Regions from separate parts of the Homo sapiens genome. Here region 1 is linked to region 2. Evidence: fine-mapped expression QTL. A gene starts in region 2. The other region holds a variant in brackets. All regions are shown on one strand. Distances are from middle to middle.

Evidence for each region. PIP is the estimated chance that this variant, and not a neighbour inherited with it, causes the effect. A credible set is the group of variants that fine-mapping cannot tell apart.
Region 1: its variant is the best candidate, but not a certain one, in a credible set for the expression of SAR1A in skeletal muscle (FUSION, PIP 0.74).

Annotation. Positions count from the first base shown.
Region 1 is chr10:70,216,920-70,219,943 of GRCh38, forward strand. It overlaps PPA1 (inorganic pyrophosphatase 1), which reads right to left. Exons shown (of 11, transcript NM_021129.4): 3 at 1,845-1,898; 4 at 893-1,012. Among named protein-coding and RNA genes, the nearest start is that of PPA1, 15 kb to the right of the region's middle. The variant A/T (reference allele first, on the strand shown) is at 1,746.
Region 2 is chr10:70,169,265-70,171,764 of GRCh38, forward strand. It overlaps SAR1A (secretion associated Ras related GTPase 1A), which reads right to left and starts at 1,250. Exons shown (of 7, transcript NM_020150.5): 1 at 1,149-1,250. RefSeq lists enhancers at 216-874, 875-1,531, 1,665-1,744 and a silencer at 1,175-1,534.

The DNA.
Region 1 (3,024 bases), 48 kb after region 2:
AGCACTTTGGGAGGCCAAGGCAGGCGGATCACAGGTCAGGAGATCGAGACCATCTGGCTAACACAGTGAACCCCGTCTCCACTAAACTGCAAAAAATTAGGTGGTGGACACCTGTAGTCCCAGCTACTTGGGAGGCTGAGGCAGGAGAATGGCGTGAACCTGGGAGACGGAGCTTTTGCAGTGAGCCGAGATCACGCCACTGCACTCCAGCCCGGGTGACAAAGCAAGACTCCATCTCAAAAAAAAATTTTTTTAATTAAAAAAAAAAAAGGTTGACTACTTAAGAAAACATGATCCTCTCATTACTTTACCACAAAGAGCTTGACCTGAAGAAGAGGGAATCAAAACTCTAAACATAAAGTCAGCAGCTATGACAGCTTGTTGTGTGCAGGTATTAAGTGCTTTATTTTTTGAAATAACCATACCACCTACATACTGTGAATAGCTCAGGGAGGCGATATGGACGTCTCAAGGAGAAAGAAAGGGAGGCAAGTTAGGTAAGCTAGGAATTGGCCATCTTGGGATTTGAACTCTGGTCTGTCTGGTGCCAAAAATCAGTGCTTTTGACTACTACCATACACTCTTTCTTGACTGAACAGACTTGCAACTCAGTCTGTAGAGAATTTATATAGCTTATAACCAGTCCAAAAAAGAAGAAATATTTCAGGAAAGAATAAACGTTCAAATCTGAATTTAAACATTGTAAATATTTAGTTTATCTTGAAAATAAGTTATTTAAGGAAGCATTCTGAGTTAATTATCCCTTCTTATGTTTTCAAAATCTACCATAGAAAAAACTCTCCACAGGTATTCAAACCTTTTTTACTAATAGCAGTAAATTAATATTTAGTAAGCTAAAAAGTACATTGTCAGCAGTTGCATGAAGACATACCTGAGGGATGGCACCATAGTTCCAGATATATCCTTTATACGGGAACAAATTCGCAACATAGCGAAGTTTTCCTTTTTTCACATCTTGTTTAATAGGGTTTAAAGGGTCCTTTGTAGCAATCTGAAATAAGAAAATTTCAAATCTTTGCATATTTGGATGTGAAATACTATTCAAATAAGGATCTGAGGAAATGAATTATGGTACCTATGTTCCCTAATTCCACTTTAATGATATATTTTATCCCTAACACTTTTATAATTGAACTAAGGTGTTTCCATAATCGGCCATTAAGTGAAAGGTTATGTGAGGTATAAAGGAACTATCAAGAAGGGAAAAAGAACATTTACTAATTCTAGAAAGCAAAGACTAAAATTAGCTGGAATAAATTCTAATGTTTGAGTAATAAAAATACCACAATTTTTATTAAAAGGGCAAAATAAATATTATCCAATTTTAGTTTTCCTTCACAGAATTTAAAATTATTCAAATACTTGGGTATTTATTACACAAAAAAAGTGATTACTGTTAAGAGTTTGTGATATAAAATATGTTATAAATATCCATAACAAAAAGGCAATGATGGTAGGTATCATCAGAAAGAAACTAACACCATGCAACTGAAATTCCAATGAGAGTATCTGTGGCTGGGGTGACTAAGGAGGGGTCAGTGAAGGGCTTACAGAGAGTAAGAGGAGAAAAAGTAATTCTAGGCTTTGGGAACATTGGAAGCAAAGATGTTGGGAAGAAAAGTTTGGGGCATATTTGTAAACAGTTGAGTTTAGCTGGAGCCCAAAGGGAAGACTAGTAGGCAATGGGAGATACAACTAGAAAATAGACTGGGACCAGACAGAGA[A/T]AAACCTTGACGTTCAGATGGTTCATCCTTGATCAAGTCAGTGTGACTAGATCAAAACCAATATCCTAAGTCTGACTCAAATGTAAGGTGAAATATTACCTCCATTTTTGCATTAGACCAGCGTGGTACTTCAACTACCATGTGAAACACATCCTGAAAAAACAAAGAGAAAGTGAGATGGTCACAGGAGCCAATTTGTTCTCTGAGGGAGCATGCACTATTTCTTCCAAAGTCAAACTGTTCATTGTATCAGATCTTTGAAGTCAATTGGATTTTCAACAAAATGCATCAAAAAAAGAGAATGATGGATGAAGAAATAATGCAATTATAGGAAAATATTCATTATAGAATCAAGGTGGTCAGTATATGATTGCTTACGGTATAGTTCTTCTTAATTTTTATTTACTTCTAAATTTTTTATAGAGGCAAGGTCTTACTGTGTTGCCCAGGCTGGTCTCAAACTCCTGGCCTCAAGTGATCCTCCTGCCTCCACCTCCCAAAGTGCTAGGATTACAGGTGTGAGCCATCTTGCCCAGCCAACTTACTATATAAATCTTTTAACTTTTCTGTATGCTTTAAGTGTTTCAGAATAAAAGCTGACAGTGGAAAGAATGTTCCTAGGAAGGAAACAGTTCTTAAATAAACGTAACAGAACCTGTATCTCTGAAGAAGACCATCTTCAAAACACTCTCCAAAGGCCAGTGTTATTTCCTTCAGAGACACTGCAATTACTCAAAATGTTTTTGGAGCTTCTATTTCAGAGACAGTTTATAAGACAAACCCCAAGTCAGACTAATTACTTGATCATACTTTAGTTTATAAGACGAACCCCACATCAGCCTAATTACTTGGTCATACTTTAGTTTTAGCATCAAACAAAACTCATCAGCTTCATTATCCACATTATTCTCCCAATTCGGCTGTTTTTAGAAATAAAGCCCCCCTGAAAAGGACTTTGACCTTGAAGATAAGAGAATATGCTTTAAAAATATTTTAATCAATGATAGTTCTACTGTAATTGGCTTATAGCCTTAAACTGACTACTATAAAATAGATGATATATTCAGGGAGTAAATTCCCAGATGTGCAGTTTAAAAACACAATGAAAAAACAAACCATACTTTGCCAACCCATTTTGCACACTGGAGTTAAATATGCCATAGGTTATTTAATTAAACTTGAGCTTTAATTATTCAGAATACTATTTTTTTTCACGGAATAGAACTTTAACTGCAGTTTTTCAGTTTTTAGCCTCTACAAAGGGCACAGATGAAGCTAA
Region 2 (2,500 bases):
GGGAAAAAAAAAAAAACTAAAACTTCTTTAACCCACCAACTACACAGAGGATGATCTTCCGAAGTTCTCTTCCTTACAACTCATCACATCTTTTGAATGGTATTTTAATAACTAGCATTCTATTTATTTTCTATTCTTGGTCCATTGTACCACCTTACGAGAAGTTAAGAGTAATCTAAAATTTAAGGTAGGTCTCTAAACTATCAACAAAACACTATTAATGTACCTAAAATGAAAACTTGCGAATTCCAGGGCTAAATGATTCAAACAAATGTTAATAGAAAAGGAGGGCACCAATCTGACCATTAGCCAATTTAAAAATTTACGCATTACTTGTTATACATAATCAGGGCAACTTTAAGACGCCATTCCAGGCAGATTTGGGGTAGTAGGCGGCTGGCTTTTAGCTAACTCTGCTTAGCTGCGGGGTAAATGTCAAAGGTCAGCCCCATGGCGAATCTCCCTAAGCCCCCTGTCGCAACCGAAGCCGATGGAATCAACAAGACAAAGATGCTCCTGACCCACTGGCTAGAATCGTGAAGAAAACGCTAATCCATGTCAAATGCACATAAGGAAATTTTTCCATGCAGAGACCAGACAGGGGAAAAGGGGAAGGGAGAAGGAGAAAATACAGGGTTCGACCCGGGCCATCGGAAGACAACCAAGCGCTGACTTGGGGGTAAGCCCTGGACTAGGGGCCTGTAGACCAGGTTCGAGCGCTCACACTCGCTAACTGCGGAGCCTTGGCCAGCCTCAGTCTCCGAGTCTACAAAACAAGGATAATCATAAAGGGCTCCCACCCGCCTCACCGAGGGCTGTGAGGCTCTTCCGAGACAGAGGACATGGAGCCATTTCGTAAACCGGAGCGCACGGTACAGACAAGAAACTGTTATCCGGCCCAGCAGCTGCGAGACCCCCGAGCGGAATGCAAGTGGACCCCAGGCAAAGAGGACAGCAGGGGACGGAGCAGATCTGGCCAAGTTGTCCCGTCCCCGCCCAGAATCAGCCCCGCGGCCCCACAGAACCGCCTGCGTGTCACTTCCCCCCCACCCAACCCCGCCAGGGCCAGCCTCCGCTCCGACCTCCCCGCCTTCCGTCCCAGCCCCTCGAGCCCCAACTCCCCTCCCCGACGCGACCCTCAGACTCACGGCCTGAGGGGCTCCTCCGGCAAAACAGCGGCTGGCTCGGACCCTCCCTCAGAGCACACTAACCAGCAGCACCCGGGACCGCCAGCTACTCGCCGGATGTACGTCACACCCCTCCCCGGGACTTCCGGGCGCGTAATGGGCCCCGCCCCCTCACAGCGTTACGCCTCTCTGCCCCGGTGCCGTCCCACCAGCGACTCGGGCCGCGGAGGGGCGGGCATAAGGCGTGACAAAGCGCGCTCGGGGTCTGGCCCCGCCTCGGCCCCGCCTGCTCCCGTCTGGCTAGCTGACCGCGCGAGACGTGGCAGCGCCGGAACCCTGGGTCCGGGGCTGGGTCCTGGAGTCCCTGAGCGGCCTGGTACACTCGGGATCGCGGCTTCCCATTCCAGACGCACCAGGAAAGTCAGAAGTGGGTACCGACGGTGACATAGGTCCTGGGAAAGATGAGTTGACCTTGGGGCCCTCCACTTGAGGTGGATCCCTCCAAGCTTTTGCTTTTTTTCTTCCTTGCTTTTTTTTTTTTTTTTTTTTTTTTTGAGGCGGAGTCTCACTTTGTCGCCCAGGCTGGAGTGCAGTGGCGCGATCTCGGCTCACTGCAACCTCCACCTCCCGGATTCAAGCGATTCTCATACCTCGGCCTCCCGAGTAGCTGGAACTACAGGCGCATGTCACCACACCTGGCTAATTTTTTTGTATTTTTACAGAGACAGGTTTCACCGTGTTGGCCAGGCTGGTCTCGAACTTCTGACCTCAAGTGATCCGCTGGCCTCGGCCTTCCAAAATGCTGGGATGAGAGGCGTGAGCCACCGCGCCCAGCTGCTTTTGCTTTGAGTCGCACTTCCTTGCCCTGGGGTGGCCTATGTTTTAGAAAAACAGAAAAACAGCTAATATTTATTGTGCACTTATGTTCCAGGCAGAGCACTGGGTACTTTGCACGCTTTGTCTAATTTCACCGTCATTGGAGTCCTGTGACTCCAGATGCTAGTATTATCCTTATTGACAAATGAGAGAGCAATGTTCAGAATAACCTACCATGCCCAAGTTCACACAGCTAAGTGGCAAAGCAACGTGTTCACCCCAGTATATTTCGCATGCATTTTCTCATTTAATTCTCAGGACAGTCCCACGAGATTGGTACTATTATTACTCTCATTTTACAAATAAAACAGTCTAATGGAAAGATGAATGACGTCTGTGGGTTCATGAAGATCTCAATTCTCCTTTAGTAAAATTTAAATTTAACATAATCCCAATAAAAGTACTAATAGGATTAATAGGTCGTGTGTGGTTTCGTTCTTTTTTTTTAATTACCCTATTTGTTCCTAAAATTCGTATAGAAAACCAAACAAAACTAG